2 separate regions of the Homo sapiens genome follow, and region 2 is linked to region 1. The links come from fine-mapping of genetic effects on gene expression. A gene starts in region 1. The other region holds a variant in brackets. All regions are shown on one strand. Distances are between the middles of the regions.

Region 1 (8,315 bases):
CATTTGCAAGGCCCCCACCCCTGCTTTCGTGTTCTCCATCCCTTCCCCCATCTGCAAGGATAGGGCTGGGTTTCGGGTGGGCTCCTGGCTGGTGCAGATGGCGTGGGCTGCCCGCAAGACCTGGGTACTGAGCCTGCATGCCAGGATGCAGGGTGGATGGGTGACCAACAGCTCAGCCTGGCAGCTTAGCAGCAGAGAGGTCCCAGGAAGACAGGGAGGAGATGAGGAGAAGGAAGAGGGAGAGGAGGACAGGACGGGGAGGGAGGGGAGGGGAGGCAGAGGCAGCCCCCTGGCTTTGCCTTGCCTGCGGAGAGCCTCACACTCAGACCGTCCTGAGCCTGACCTCATTACTCTGTCACATTTCTCCCTCAAACCCAATGCCAGGGCTCACCACTTGCTTCTCGCATGGGTGTGATCAGCTTCTCATCTTAGACCTGAACTCTCCCCAAAACACACACACGCACACACACGCACACACTTGCCTTGTCTTCAACAGCTTGCATTTGGTACTCTCCACCCTTACTGAGGAACTTTAGTGGCCAGGGGTGGGGGGTGATGGAGGACACTTCAGTCCCTCAAAGGCTCCTCCCCAGGTTCCCTGGTTCAGGGCCGGGAGTCGAAGTGGCCCCGTGGAGCAAGGCCTTCTAGGGCTTTAGCTCTGACAGCATTCTAGGGCCTAGGCGCCCCCAGGTGGGGTGGCTCCCCCTCAGGTCTAACTCCAGCCCCTGCCAGAAGCAGACCCGCCTCTGCAGAGAGGAAAGCCCTTGGACTTCAGCTTCCTTTGATTCGCGGTGTCTTTGGGGGATTGGGGGGTCCCTGGTTGATTCCCGCTGCACCGTGGGGTCTGCCCTTAAGGTCATATGAAGAGCAGGGCCCGGATGCTCTGAGGACTTTTTCAATACCCTCCACAGGTCAGGGAGGCTGCCCACTTGGTGAGCTCAACTGTTTGGCCATATATCTCTGGGCCCACCACACAAACTGAGAGGTCTCGAATGCCACCAGCACCCGCCAGCCCATCTCTGGCACAGCGGGGCCAGTGCCGTGAACCAGTCTCATTTTCCAACGTGTTTTCCAAGCACTGACACGGCTGAGGCCCTGCTGGGACGCATGGCCAACTTTCCTCCATGACCAGGACCCCCCAGCTTCCCCGCCACATCCACAGCTTCCCCCCAACATCCCTCCTCCAGGTCAATGGGTCCTTCAGCCACATTTTTGGCTCCTGACCCACCCAGGCCTCCCTCAGAGAACCTGGGGTCTCTGGGTTGGAATGTCCCTTAGAGATGTGCCCCCTCCCTCCCCCATGGTAGGACTCAACCCTCCACATCCCCGCCCACCCACCTCCCTGGGCTTGTAGACCTTCTAGGACCGGGAGCTCCCTTCCTCTCCTGGCAGCCAGCTGGTGTTCAGACAGTGATTTCTGGGAGGAGTGCTTTCTTGGACTGAGCTTGAGTCCACATTTCCAGAAGCTTCTACCTCTGGGCCCCTTCTTTCCCCCTTCCTGAGAGGCCCAGCAGCCTCTCTGTTCCCTCCCCAGCCTCCAGCTTTTCCGGAGGAAGATGCCTGGGAGGTGCTATGATTCTGGGGGCGGGTGGTGGGTGGCAGGTGGTGGGTGGTGGGTGGTGGGTGGTGGGGTGGCGTGGGCAGGGAAGCTGCAGCCTGCTGCTGGGTCTTCAGCGACCATCTCCAGGGGCTGAGGGCTGGCCAACAGGTTCTCCATGAGGGGGATGGCCTCCATAACCTCTCAAGATGATCTTCGCCTCTCAAGGCCCTGCCAGTTCCTCAGGGTCCCATAGACTGAACTGCTGAGGTTGGGGAGGCCTGTTGAGCACACTGGCTCCGTGGAGCTGGGTGGAGGAGGGAGATTTTCTTCCAGAGTACACAGGAGCTGGTTTCTTCCCGGTCCTCAGGAGCAGAGAATATGGGGAGGGTTGGGGGAGGCTGCCACACTGCCGTGGTTTCTTCCGCCAAATTCCCCAGTCCTAGGAAAGATCCACAGAAAAACCCACAAGAATTTGAATGTCTGAGCTGGGGCTGTGATTGAGATGAAATTTTCTAAAAAGAAAGAAAGAAAAACAAAAACAAAAAAGAGGGAAAAAAACGCTTAAAAAAAAATCCCAAAGCCTTTGACAGCCCTCAGCTACCAGAAGGGCCTGAGGCAGCAGCCACGTGGAAGGGTAGAGAGCAACCTTGAGGCACTTCGCTGGGCCTGTGTCGGGGCCTCCCAGGCTGAGGTCCCTTCCTGTGACCCCCGGACTCCTGCCCGCTCCCTCCTCCCAGGACGGAGTGAAGTCCCCTCCTGTCACTTGGATGACTGCAGTTGCCTCCCAGCAGGTCCCTGGGTCTCCCTGACTATAGACTTGCCCCCTGATCCCACCCTCCAGGAGATGGCAGGGTAGGGCACAGAGGAGGGCACAGTGGCAGCTGCCTGCTGCTGTCTCCTGGCTACTGGGCACAAGCCACCCTCCAACTCCTTCCTGCCTTGCCCAATCAGCAGGTCCCTGGGTAAGGGGCATTCAGTGAACTGGGGGCTTTGCAGGTCTGGGGGAGGAGCGACTGACATATTTCATTGCAGACGCATTGAGTTTGAGGGTCCTGAGGGATGTAGAAAAATTTGTTAAGTAGACAGGATAGGAAGGAGCCACAGGTAGCCCCAGGAGCCGTGAGGGGAGCAGGGCCCAGCATGTATTACAATAGTGAGCATTTACGTGGTTCTTCGCATGCGCCGGGCACTGTTCTAGGGATTCCACAGGAATTATTACCGCCTGCCATCCTCATTAGCAACCCAGTGGGTAAGGTGCTCTCATTAGCTCCATTAGGTGAGGGCAAAGAGGCACAGAGAGGTTAGGTAACTGGTTCAAAGGCACACAGCTGGTGAGTGACAAGAAATTTCCTTCTAACTACAGCGTGAGCATGGTGAAGAGAAGACGGAGCCCCGCGCTGGGAGAGGAACGCTTCAGTCCGAGTTCCATTCTGCACCCAAGGCTCCCCTTGGTCCTCCTGGGAACCAGGGTGCCCCTTAGTGGTGGTGGCCCAGGAGAACCCGACCAAGGCAGGAGCGCCCCCTCCTGGAAGAGCCTCGCTTCAACGCATCATCATTCCCGGCCGGCAGCAGGGGCGACGCCAGCAAGGCCTGCGACTCAGAGCCAGCTTGGCCCGTTCGCCCCGCCCCTTCCCGGTGTCCGCCCCGCCCCTTTCCCGGTGTCCGCCCCGCCTCCTTCCCGGTGTCCGCCCCGCCCCCTTCCCTGTGTCCGCCCCGCCCCCTTCCCTGTGTCCGCCCTGCCCGCTTCACTGTGGTCCTGCCTCTGGGTGGTGCCGGGGCGGGGGGTGGGAGCCCGGGGCCCGCGCAGGCGGAGATGTCGCCCAATGGGAAGGGTCGGTCGGGAAGGGGGTGGGCGCAGGCGGGTGGGCGGGAAGAACGCTGGAGGTTGATTGGCGGTCTTGCCGGCCAGTGAAGCCAGGGCATGGGCGGGGCGCGGCTCGGAGCGCGAAACATGGCGGGGCAGGACGCTGGCTGCGGCCGTGGCGGCGACGACTACTCAGAGGACGAGGGCGACAGCAGCGTGTCCAGGGCGGCTGTGGAGGTGTTCGGGAAGCTGAAGGTGCTGTTGGCCCAGAAAGCCACTCCAGGGCGGGGGACCGGGGAGGGCCCCGCCCGAGGCCCGGGAGGGCTTGCTGCGGAAGTCCGCGGCGCCACGCGGCCACCGTCGCCGGTTCCGGCTGCGCCCTGTTCCCTTGCAGCAGGGGGTGCTTGTGGATCATTCATCTTTGCCCTTTGGTGTGCCCCAGGCCTTCGTTCTTGCTGTCTCCACGGCCCGTGCCTGGTAGTTGGGGCCAGCACCGCCTGTGGAACTGCAGTACCCGCGCTGGGCGCTCGGAGCAAGTGCAGACACAGAGGACCCAGGCCTGGCCTTAGGGATCTTGCGGGGTCTGGGGGGACAGATGGGCAGAGCCTCGTGCCACTCTGTCAAGTCAGCGAGACTAGGGCTTGGTGTCAGTTGGTGTCAGATGCCAGGGGTGATAGCCTCCAGAAGCCCTCTACAGCCCCACAGGACAGAGCCCTCACTGCAGCAGTGAGGAAAGCTGGCCCACGAGGTTAGGGAGCTGTCCCAGGTCCCCTCGGCCCGCTCGCTCCTCCCCCCAGACACTCCCCCATCCTGTCCGCGACTGGCTCAGTGGTCCCTCTCCCTTTCCCTCTCCCCTTTCCCTCAGTCCCGAAACCTAGGACTCTCTCTTAAGTCTTAGTCTCAGGCGTTGCTCCTAGGTCCTGCTGCCACAAGAGCCCAGAGTGGGAGTACTTGAAAGAGGTGGGGTCTGCATGCCGCGGGAGATGTGGGGTTAAGAATGGGGGGACTTGAACTCTTGGCAAGATGGCAGGACGCGGGTAAAGGAAAGGGTCCTGGGAGCTTGCAGATGTACACTGAGGACTGGGCGCGGCGGCCCACGCCTGTAATCCCACCACTTTGGGAGGCTGAGGTGGGCAGATACCTGAGGTCAGGAGTTTGACACCAGCCTGGCCAACATGGTGAAACTCCGTCTCTATTAAAAATACAAAAATTGTCCGGGCGTGGTGGCGCATGCCTGTAATCCCCCAGCTACCCTGGGAGCTGAGGCAGGAGAATTGCTGGAACCCAGGAGGTGGAGGCTGCAGTGAGCCGAGATCATGCCACTGCACTCCATCCAGGCTGGGCGACAGAGTGAGACTCCGTCTCAAAAATAAATAAATAAATAAAATGAAATGATGTACACTGGGACTTTCAGTGAATGTTGCTTTCCTTTTCCTTGCTTAGGACCTAAACTGCCCCTTCCTCGAGGGTCTGTATATCACAGAGCCAAAGACAATTCAGGAACTGCTGTGCAGCCCCTCAGAGTACCGCTTGGAGATCCTAGAGTGGATGTGTACCCGGTAATGCATCAGTTTCTTCCTCTTCCCACCTGGGGTGTGCATGGGCGCCAGCCAGCCCCACCTGGGGAAGATGGGGTTTGTGGTTACTGTGAGTAGCTGTCTTCCCAGAGGGCTCCACCCCCTAGCCTGGACCCTCGTGAGAACAGCTGTGTAGGTAAGGAGTACTGGTGACAGGCATGATCAAACTTGGGGCAAAGTGGCCCCTGGCGGTGCTGGGCTAGTCCAGCCACCCCTTTGCTGCAGTGCTGAACTTGCCCTCAGCGTTTGCCTTGCCTTATGAGTTTGGAGGTTCAGGACTGGCAGGCACCTGAGAAATGCTCCATTCCAGTCCTTTCCTTCTCAGACCCGGAAGCCAAGGGTCAGGCTGGAGGCATGAACAGTCTCTGGTCTCCCAGTGGAGGAGTGACAGGCAGGGCCAGGGCGTGGGCTCCTGGCTGGGTCTCAGCTGGCCAAGTGGTCCTCATGCAGTGTCACCTCTTGTCAGCTTCTGTGCCGTGACCCGTTTCCCAGTCCTCTGGTGCCTTTGGGCCAGGGTGTAGCATGGTGTGTGCCTGGCACCCTATGAAGCCCATGGTGACAGGGTGACTTCCTGAGTGATGGTGGAGGAAATGATCCAGAGTGTCCCATTCCCAGGGCAGACATCCTTCCCCTGGTGACGTAGTCCCTGAGCTGAGGGTCTGTCTCACTGCCTCACAGCTGTGAGTGGAGAAGGCTTTCCCCGCCTCCCACAGAGCACAGGCTCCTGTGGGATTGGGTGTGTGCCCAGGCCATGCTCAGGAACAGCTGTAGTCTGTTGGTACAGGAGCCTCTCGTGAGTCCAGGCCCGGGCCTCCCCCTCCTCAGCCTGCGGCCTGCCTACCCTTGCTGCTTGAGGAAGGGGCCTGGGCGGGAGCCTGGCAGTAGAGCAGTGGGGAGCCAACCTGCATCCAGCCGGTCTGGCCCGCCAGGACCAGAGACATCAGCAGGACGCCCAGCTGGATACAGGCCCCCAGAGGAAGGAGGAGGCGTTTTTGTGTTTGAGCCCTTGCTGTTCCAGAGGCGTCTCCTGCCTCTGCCTTCTAGGCCCTTCCTCAGGCCTCTCCCCAGGGCTCAGCACAGCAGCTCCTCGCTTCATAACCTTTTGCTCTTGCTCACATTGTTCCCCCTCCTGGAAATGGCCTTCTAGTCTCTGCATGTCGTACGTCCTCCTGTACAGCCCGCAAAGACCCAACTCACACGTCCTGTCTCCTTTTAAAATGTTTCCTGTTCCCAGGGCAGAATGTATTCCGCTTCCCTCTGGATGCCCACAGCCTTTGAGCACACCCTGCCCCTGCTGGAGCCCTCAACCTGTGGGTGCACTCTTGGCCTGCTGTCATTTCCGGCTCTTTAGTATGGGAGCCGCAGCATGGTGTGGCCGTGCAGTCGGGGGGTTCTCCAGGCTGCACCTGTGTGCCATTCCACGCGCTGCAGACGTGACTGGGTGTCCTCAGGAGCTGGGTATTTAGTGGGTACAAGTCCTGGGGTTCAGCAGAAATGATGCACAGCACTGCAGTCTGAGTTGGGTGCTGTGGATGTTGGCAGGGAGGAGGTGGCATTTGATCTGGGATGGGGACGGTAACAGCGGGGTGCTCGTTTGGACAGGAGCAGGGAGTTGAGGTGTGGGAGAGAGAGCTGGGCAGCAGCAGCTGGAATGGCAGCTCAGGGCAGCTCCCTCAGGGCCTTGCATGCTGTGCCAAGGCCTTTGAGCTTTATGTTCTGGGCAGGGCAGGCGTGGAACCTGGGGAGCGACGTGCTGAGATTGGCATTTTGGTAAGGTGACTCAGGGTGCTCTGTGGCAGATGGATTTGGAGGGCAATGGCTGCAGGCAGGGAGACCAATACCCCAGGGAAAGACAGAAGGAGCCCTGCGCTGAGTGGCAGATGGCTTGTCTGGCAGCCACTACTGGCCCTGGAGGGACCAGCCCCTGGCCTGGGAACCTGGGAGGCTGGGAGGTGAGGCAGGACTGGAGATGGCTGGGTGGAGTGTGAGGGTCTTGAGCGAGCTCCCAGGAGGAGGCTCTTGTGGGAGGGGGCGCAGATTTGCCTGACTCAGGTGGAAGCTGGGGGCACTTGGGGAACTGGGGTCATCTGGCCAGAGAGGGACGGGTAGGAGGCCAAAGCCACGCCCCTCAGATGCTTCTACAGGTTGAGTGTCCCATATCCAAAATGTCTGGGGGCCAGAAGTGTTTCAGATTTCGATTTCTTCGGATTTTGGAATATATGCATTATACTGGTCGAGTGTCCCTAATCTGAAAATCCGAAATCTCAAATGCTCCAGTGAGCATCTCCTTTGAGCGTCATATCGGCGATCAGAAAGTTTAGGATTTTGGAGCATTTCAGGTTTTCAGATTAGGGATATTCAACCTGTAGTACTTCTGTAAATACCAGAAACCGAATCCTTTGAAAAAGCTGCCAGGGAGCATACGATGACGTTGTCTGATTTCAGGTTGGCGAGAATTCCTTAGGCCTTTTGAGGGTCCTACAGGAGAATCAGATGGATGGGAGTTTTCCTGTGAATTTCCCATTGCCTTTCTTTGTACGTGACCGCACCCTGTCAGCCCCATTTAGGGCCGCCTTTTCATCTCCTCCCAGTAGAACCTGGAAGCTGCACCTAGTGTTGGTCCTTGGTGTGGGTTGGGGCAGAGCTCATGGAGCCCCCTGGATTGTGGAGGTCAAGGCCCTGTGGCTTTCCTTGGGGCCTCCAAGGCCTCCAGCATTTTCTGTTCCTGCTCTGCCCTCTGCTGTGACGGTGCGGTGACTTGAGTGACAGCCCTTACTGAGTCTGGCTACTGGGGCTTCTGCAGCGTGGGTTTTGAGTGTGTTCAGGGTTTACTGTGCCCGCCCTTGCACAGTGCTGGGTGAGTGCCCTCTGCTCCTCCGAGCCTTGTGCTCAGAGATGTTCTCGGCAACCCCGCTGGCAGAGCCCAGCCTGCTGGCCTCCCCCTTCCTTCCCCAACCCCGCTTGCGCAGAACCCACGGTTGTCTTAATAAGTCACAGAGGTGGGTGGTGCTGTGGAGGCAGCCAAGCCCAGCCCGATCTCTGTTGCAGTTCTGGGGCAAGTGTGGCCTCTCCAGGGAACAGCCACCAGCCCTTTCCCACCACACGAGTCAGCAGGCTCCTAGAGTGATGGCAATGGTGAGGTGTAGCCAGGCTCTGGCAGCCTGGTGGAAAGCGACTCCTTCTTGTTTATGAAAGGCTGCTGTGGTGGCAGGTGCCTGGGGCTCCCGGGTAAGAGCCTGTGGCCCCAGCGGCCGGAGTGATGTTTCTGGGCCTCAGTGTCATACCGGGCTTGAGGCATGGGGCTTGGGACTGGGGATGCAGTGCTTGGGCTGTGCTCCCCTGAAGGAGGAGACCCAGTGGAGGGCTGAGCCGTGTGTCACCTGTGGTGCATGTC
Region 2 (8,318 bases), 29 kb before region 1:
CAGCTGGGCAGCAGGGGCCTCTGGCAGACCTGAAGCAGTCGCACGCCCAGGAGACCCTCACTTAGGGCCAGTACTAGCTGGGGAGGGGCTGTCTGGGGCTCCAGCAGAGCGAGGTGAGCCCCCTAAGCCCAGCTGCTGGTTGCAGGGGTCTAAGGAGGCCGTGGGGAGGTGGGGGCTCTGCCCCCAGGCCAGCACCCTATGAGCAGCCCCGCCCTGCCCGATGCTTCCCCAGTTGCCCTGGGGGCTGGGCTGGCTGCCCGGGGCTGCCGCTTTGGAGTCCTTGCTACCAGCGGGCCGGGGGCCTGAGGCCACTTCAGGGCCAGGTTGGGTCTGAGCACAAGCCCAGGAGAGGGTTGGGATGGAGGCCTGTCCTGTCGCCCCCATGCAGCTCCTCGGGTGCTCCAGGGAGCATCTGCTGGCACGCGTCCCCCCTGCATTGGCATCCCCCCTAGAAGCCACCCATGCGCCCTCCCACACCTGTGGACAGAGGGGCCTGTGGTGAGGCTGTGGCTATAGCGGCTGCCAGGCCTGTGGAGTGGCCTTTCCGCAGCCAGCCCCGGAGCCCTCCTGAGCCCACAGGCCCTGGGCCACACTGCAAAGTGGGAGTCGGAGCCCAAGGCTTAGCTCAGCTTCCCCCTCATGTGGAGCTGGACTTCATGCTGACCCCTGGGGTCACCAGGAGGCCCCTGCTGGGGCAGCACCGAGCCTCCCTCATTCTTTTGAGCCTTGAGATCCCACAGTTGCAGCCCAGGGCCTGCCAGCCTCAGGCCGGCCCAGCAGAACCTAGGGGAACCGCCCGGAGGGTCTTGGCCCCCAAGTAGGGAGAAGGCTCAACACTCACCTACCTGGATGGTGTTTCCCTTCCTCCAGGGCAGGGCAGGGCCTCCGATGCCTGCTGCCGCTGTAGGACCCTCTCCCAGTGCCAGTGGACACCCGGGGGCAGAAGGAGGAGGAGGAGGAGGAGCAGTGGGAGAGAACAGGAAGGGCAGGGTGGAAGCAGGAGAGCAAGATGGAGTGGGGGAGGGAGGAGACTGCCCTGCCCCTCCTTGCCGATGCCCCTGCCAAAGCCGCTACCTCCCAGGGAGAGTGAGTCAGGGCTGGGACACCCCGCCAGAGCCCTGGCAAGCTCCAGGGTGGGCAGTCCACCTGGACAGGTAGGGTTGGGGTGGTCCGGCTGGGCCTACGGGAGGCTGTGGGGAGGGGCTGGGGAAGGCCGAGGGGACAGAGGACCATCTGACCATGGCCAGCTTGGAGCCCCCCAGGACCCACGCATTGGCCTGGAGGAGGACTCTACAGGGACTCCTGCCCCGGGGCAAGGGGTCTCCCCAGGAGCTGGGACTTCCCTGCAGGCCCTCCTGTTAGGGAATCGGGCCCTCCACCAGGGCAGGGGGCACAGGCACAGGGCAGGCCAGTCACGGCAAGACTGGCCATCGGGGTCTCAGGCGGGTTCCCGGGACCAGCTGTGGGGCAACGAGGGCTCTGGAGGCAGGCTGCCTGATACAGTAGGATGTCTGGGGGGTCTCCAAGAGACTGAGAAAGGGGCAAGGGGAAGAGGTTCCCTCAGAGCGGGGAGGGAGGCTGAGGGCTGGAAGGCCCATACACCCGGGCCCCGTGACAGAGGCAGAAGGACAAGGTTTGGCTGGTTTTCCATGGCTCATGGCTGTGCCCAAGCAGTGGGCAGGCTGGAGGGGCGGGGGCCGGGCAGGCTTCCCGGCACATCCCTCATTTCCCCTCAAAGAACTGGCACAAAACTGAGACCTCTCCCGAGGAAGGGGCAGGCTCCGTGTCTGAGCCCACAGGAGGCAGCAAGGGGCCCATGAAGTCAGAGGGAGCCAGGGGAGCCTGGGGGGAAGGATAGGATCCCCTGGAGCTGGCCTGATGAGTATCCCCATTTTATGGACACAAAAGCTAAGGCCGAGAGAGAGGCTCTGATTTCTCCCAAGTCACTCAGCCTGACTTGGAACTCAGCTTTGGCGCCTCCAGGCCCCGCCTGAGCTCTCAGCTGTGCTCCTCAGCCACAGGGCTCCAGCCATGTCTCTGGGCCTGTGAGAGCCTGAATGCCCAAGACTGGGGGTGGCAGTTTGGGAGGTCCTGGCAGTATAGGCTCAGCTGTCCTCCCAAAGCCTGGCCCCTGCCTTCTCCCCACCACCTCACACCAAGCCCCTCCCTCCTGCCAGAACATGCACACACACACACGTACACACATACACACACAAACACACACACAGATGCACACATACACGCTCACATACACACACGTGCACACGCACACACCTATACAAAACACATATGTACACACGTGCACACACACATGCACACACCTATACAAAACACATATGTACACACATCCACATGCATCCACATACATGCACACATCCACACATATACGTGCACACACCTATACACACATGTACACACATATACATGCACACACCTAGACACTCACACATGCATACCCATGTATACACATTCACATACACATATGATACACATATACACACATATATACACAGATGCACACACACTCATGCACACATCTATACACATACATGCACATGTACATCCACATGCGCACATGCATGCATGTATACACACATGCACACATGCACACATACACACATGCACACACATGCACACACACGCACACATACACATTTATACACACGTACACACACACACACATGCATACATGCACACATACATACATACATACCTGCACATATACACCTGTATACACGCATACACATATGTACACACATACATGCACACATCTATACACACATGCATACACACATTCACATATACATATGTATACATATACACATACATACACATATATCCACACATAGATAAGGCAGGCGGGGACCCCAGCCCAGGAAGCAGGAATACCCCATAGTCAGATCCTGTGAGACCCACAGCAAGTCCCTCCAGTCCTCAACTCTCCACCACCACAACTGAGGCCTCTGGGCCTCAGTTTCCCTTCATTGGCCTCTCTGGGTGTGTCTTCAGGGACTTCAGGGAGGGTTTCAAGCCCCACCAAAGTGTGCCCTGAGCTCCCTGGATACCATCTCTTTAGAGCAAAGGACAGGGGCGGCAATGGCATAAGCCCCAGGTTTGGCGACCGCAGGTGTGAGTGAGGGAGGAGGCTGGGCTTCCTGGAGCCTCCGCCACCACCCCAATAGGGCCCTCCTTGTCTGCCCCTCTGAAAGCTAGCGCAGTCCTCTGCACTGGATTGCTCGAGGTCACAGCCAAACAAGATGCGTTGGCAGCCTCTGAGAACATGGAGGGTCCGTGCCAGGCATTCAGGCCAGGCCAAGGGCGGCGGGAGCAGGGCTTGAGGTCTGGCGGGCCCTGGGAGCTCGCCTGCAGATGGTGTGGCTCACAGCTGCCAAGTGGCAGACGCCGGATGCTGTCTCCGCAGCCTCAGCCCTGGGCGTCTGCCCCCCTGAGCAACCCGACCTGAACTCTGACACATGTGCCACCTTCCACGCAGCCCTGCGGGGTCCCCGGGACTGTGTCCTTCCTCCCCTCCCCTCTGGCCTCCAAAGCCTTTTGGGCCCAGTTTCAACCAGCAGCCTGGTGCTTGTGCCCCCGCTGACACCCGGCCTGCCCCCTGCCACTCTCCCAGGCCCCAGTCCACCAGTCCCTCCCCGCCGATGGCTCCAGCCTGTACTTGGGCATCAACCAGAGAGGGGATGTGTACCCTCCCTGGCCTTGCCAAAGCCCGGCGTGTGCGTTCATCTGTGGGAGTGGCTGCCTGAGGGGCTGGGGGCTGGAGTGGGGAGGGGTGGACCTTGTGCCACATTCCAAGCCCCTGCCGTTGCCGGAGCATGCCCTTCAGGCAGCCACGC[T/C]TGGGCGTCTGCTCCCCTTGCAGCCACGTGTGGAGGGGCTGGGAAACCCCGGCTCATCTGCTGCTCAAATCCTTTCCAGAGGTTTTCTGGCAGGGTGGCGACAAGGGTGGAGTTCTCCCTTGATGCGCCCAGCCACCTCCCACCTCTCTGTGCCAGCCCTTTGCAGCCTGTGGCGCCCATGTCAAGGTCCAGCCTGTCCCCACAGTCGGCGGAGTGCGGGACTCAGCCCTTCCCACTGTGCGCTCCTGGTCCTCTGCACACGGACTACTGCTGCCCCCTCCCACTCTCCGAAGAGATCCGGGGCCTCCTGCTAGAGTCTCCAAGGAAAAGGGAGGATGCTGTCACCTCTCAGAGGCAGAGCAGGGGACTCATGTGATTTCTTTACTTAGCATCCTGCCGTCCCCCGTTGACTATAAGAAGGAAGCAATGCTCTTAGAACTTGATGAAGGGGTAAACTGAGGCTCAGGAAGTTGGCCCCAAACTCTTGCCCAAGGCCACACGGTGAGGAAACAGCAGAGCTGGGGCTGCACACACTGTCTGTCTGTCCGTCTGTGTCCTTGCCCCCATGTCTGGACCCACCCTCTCCCAATGCACACAGTGCCACAGGCCCCAAAGCTGACACGCTTCACACTCTCGGGGCTGTGCAGGGGGCTCCCCTGGAAGCATGGCCCTTCTGAGGACCATCAGTAGCTCCCTATGGCCCACAGATCCAGAAGCCCCTCCTCAGCCCCAACACAGCCAGCAGGGCAGCCCCCGCCCAGCCTCTCACCTCTGCCTCTGTCTGCAGGGAGTCTCCTGGAAAAGCCATCGTCTCCCCAGGCGAGCACTTCAGGGCCCCAGGGAAGGTGTTCCCGGCCTGCCCCCCAGAGCCTGGGGCCCTGCCTCCCTCCCTCCCTGGTACAGGCCCACCAAGGCCAGGAGGGGAGGGGAAGGTTTCCTGCAGCCCCTCCCTGCCGCAACCCGCTCTCTGCCGGGGGCTCAGGCTGGGCTGGGATTAGCCTCCTTCAGCCAGCCAGGGTGGCCCACAGCCTGCTTAGCTTCAGGCTCCTGGGACTGCTGGGCTCCCATGGGTGTGTGTCTCTTTGCATGAGGGCAGCCTCCAAGAACCATGGGATGGCAGTCAAGGCCAAGCAGGGACTCAGACTTCCAGAGGATAGAAGTCACACTGGCTTCCCAGACTTCCCCTGCCTCCAGGGACAGGGCTGCCTTCTAATCTTCTGGCCACCCAGGAGTCTGCCCGCCATGCTCCCCTTGGCCCATCTGAACACCTCAGGGACCAAACAGGACTGGGATGGCCAGCAGAGGCAAGTTCAAGAGGCCCACAGAGTCCGTTGGGCCCCTGGTCCTCCAGCTTATCTCAGGCCAGTGTTTAAGTGGAGCTCAGGCTTAAGATGCAGTGGACCAGGAGAGTTCCATGCAAGAAGGCTGGCTAGAGCCCCAGGCCCCTAAGCCTCAGAGATGAGCCTCATGGGAATGGGCAGCACCTTCACCAGGCCTGCCAGGGAGCCGGGACCTGACCCTGCCCCTTGGGCTGGCTGGGATCAGAGCTGCGCAGGTGGGAAGCTGGGAGTGGGAGGGTTCTGCAGTCCTCGGAAGAGCCAAGGCTGGTGGCCCCTCCATAGCCACCCCAGAGGCTGCTCTGACCTAGAGCCATGACGGGGCAGGGGAAGAAGGCAAACAGCGAAACAGCGAAGGGGGCAGCTGGGATGGTTCCCAGGAGTCTAGAGTCCCAGAAGGGGCTTCTGGCTGTGGGATTCAAGTGGTGGAGGGGATCTTCTGGCCTGGAAGGGGACCTGGGGAAGGAGGAATGAAGCACAGGCCCCACCCCTCCAGAGGAGGTGGCCCCAGGCCTTCCCCAGGGAACCCTGGGAAGCTGGTTCTTTCTGGAAGGCTGCAGAAGGGCCTGGCCATGGGTCCTGGAGGCCACTTAGGCTAGGCGGGCCTCAGGCCAGGAGGACTGAGCCATGCGCCCTCCCCACAGCGCAGCCCCTCTGCACACACCCCACAGCTGGTCCCTCTAAGACTTGCGGAAAGGGCTCTGAGTGGCCGAGCTGTGGCCCCTGATCTCCCAACCCAGCATCTGAGCAGAAGAGGACAGGAGCTGGGGCACTGATCGCCCCAGGCCCGGTCGGCAGGGTGGGGGCCAGGGCCGGCAGGATCCCGGGTTGCGCTGCCTTCCGAGGGAGCCGGTGCCCACCCAGCGGCCTGCAGCCCAAGGCAGGGTGCCCTGGGAAAGCCACCGCCACCCCCAGCCCCTCGGTGTGAGCAAGACCCCCAGCTGGTGGGTCCCCACCCACCAGTGGGGCTCCCAGGCCTGTCGGGGGCTCGGTGGTGGGCCTGGATGCTAGGGGGGCAACGTGCGGCAGGGACCAAGCTCTCCGGCCCACAGATGAGTGGGAGGGGGTCGTGGTGGGCATGGGAAGACATTTCCGACAAGCAGGGGTGTTGGGGGGTGAGCAAGGCAGGGGAGGGGCCCTGGCAGGTGGGGTGCCAGGGACCCCAGGGCTGGGGCTAGGCCTGTGGGTGGGGCGTGTGCTGGGGATTCTGTGGGCCGAGGACATGTGACTCCCGGGCAGGCTGGAGATGCTGGGGGGTGGGGGGTGGGGGGTGGGCCCGGGAAGCACAGGAGACGGCAGGTGGGGAGGTCCTCATCCCACCTCTATACGGGGTGGCAAGGACTCAGAAGCCCTTGCTGAAGGCTCTGAGTGCTAACTGTCAAGTGTGAACTCATTACAAACCCCTCCTCTGGGGACTTGGCGCTGTCACTGGAAGGGACACGCTATAGCTTTGTTTGAGTGACTCTGGAATGTTGCTAAAGACAGGAAACTCATTCTTGCCTTGGAAACACCCCCCTTCCTTTCCCAGACTCCCCATCTATGCGTTGGTAGGGTTAATGCCCACTGCCGTACGGGTCCTTGGGGCTTGAAGGTGGGCCAGGGAGGCCAGGGCTGCCACCCACAGCTGGCCAGCTTGCCATGGGAGCCCTCTCTGCTCCCTGGCTCGCAACCTGCTCCCACCGCCCAGCCCTGGTGGCTTGGAGGCAGCCCTGCATCTTCCTTTCAATATACCCACACGGGCTTGCCCTCAAAGGCTCACCATGCTGGCCCACAGTGGCCATACATGGGCATGCTCCGCACCAAGACATCCATGCTCATACACCAGCTCTCCTGGGGTGCGGCTGGCACCGGCGGCTGGGTGTCACCAGGAGGTGCTCACCCGCACCCCTGGGCGCTGGTCCCCGGGAGCCTTTCTGGCACGGGGGCAGGGGGGCTGAGCATCTCCAGCTTGTCTCAGTTCCAATTAGTTGCTATAGGGCAGAGAGCTGGCAGGCCAGGGAGGGGCGAGGGCCCAGAAACAGGACCCCCTGAGGATGGGACCTGAGCAGTCTGGCAGCCAGGACAGCAGGAGAGAGGCCTGCCCACCAAGACAGACCACTGGAGACTGATGTACCCTGTGCCCTGCAGATCCCTGGGCCCCCTGCTCTGCTCAGCAGGCGCTCAGGCACCCAGCCCCGCCCATGGAGCAGTGAGGGGGCGCTCCCCTCCGTGGGCCTTCCAGGGCACTCTCTCGCTCCCTCTCCTGGGTCCCTTGGCAGGCCCCTCTGGGACCCCAAGCCAGGTCCGCCCTGGGGAGCATGGCACAGTTGCCTGATTTTCTCTCCTTCCCCTCCACACCCATTCTGAGTCCCAGTCCAAGGGGGTCCTGGAAACAGACAGGGCTGAGCCACCCAGGCACCCCCAGTCAGGGCCCTTGCAGCCAGGGCTCCCAGGACCCAGACTTCTCACAGAGGATGTAGAGGCAGAGCATTAACCTGGGGGTGAGCGAGCGAGGAACATCTGGGCAGGGTGCCTGGGGTGTGCCTGGGAAACTAAGTCTTTCAGCCCATGCCAAGGACTGGCCTCAGGCAGTGCAGCGGAGGACTGCTCCTGGGTGCTGAGCTCGGTGGGCGCTGGGCGGTCCTCCCCGATCCGACCCAACCCGGGCCAGGCGCCAAGCCCTGGAGCAAGGAGGCGCCTGGGCAGAGCGAGGCTGAGGGAGTGGAGCATGCGCCTGGGACTTGCAATGATGAAACAGGGCCATTGGCAAAGCTGGGGTACCAGTCACCCAGCCACGCTCTAGGGTGGTAGCCAAGAAGACGGACCCCGAGCGGGAGGCAGAGAGACAAGAGGTGGATGAAGCAGAGCAAGGTCAGAAGGGAGAGGGAGAGGAAGGGGTGAGGGAAAGGTGCCTGGAGGGCGGCGAGACGAGGCAGAAGCCTGACAGGGACCAAGGGGGCCGCAGGGTGGCGATGAAGGGGCGTGGATCAGCAGCCTACAGAGAGCACCGGGGAAATCTGTGGACACCCTCGCGGCACTGGGGACAGCAGGACCAGGGCTTGGGACAGCGGAGGCAGCAGAGCCAGGGGCATCTCTGGGTTGCTGAGGAGGCAGCTTGAAGCCAGCCCTACCTGGAGAGGGGAGGCGCCAG

Alleles and levels. Alleles are on the strand shown, and positions count from the first base shown. SD is a standard deviation of normalised expression in the study named.
For the expression in unexposed skin of the gene that starts at base 3,473 in region 1, C is the high allele of the variant in region 2 and T is the other (small effect, 0.34 SD a copy in GTEx).

Evidence for each region.
Region 2: its variant is fine-mapped to the expression of HAUS7 in unexposed skin (GTEx, PIP above 0.99).

The regions. Positions count from the first base shown.
Region 1 is chrX:153,465,734-153,474,048 of GRCh38, reverse strand. It overlaps HAUS7 (HAUS augmin like complex subunit 7), which reads left to right and starts at 3,473. Exons shown (of 10, transcript NM_001385482.1): 1 at 3,473-3,599; 2 at 4,788-4,903. The coding sequence starts at 3,492. RefSeq lists enhancers at 2,944-3,238, 3,752-3,851, 4,002-4,181 and a silencer at 3,112-3,421.
Region 2 is chrX:153,495,094-153,503,411 of GRCh38, reverse strand. It overlaps BGN (biglycan), which reads right to left. Exons shown (of 8, transcript NM_001711.6): 1 at 8,299-8,318. It also overlaps a transcript of HAUS7 not described here. Among named protein-coding and RNA genes, the nearest start is that of BGN, 4.3 kb to the right of the region's middle. The variant T/C (reference allele first, on the strand shown) is at 3,852.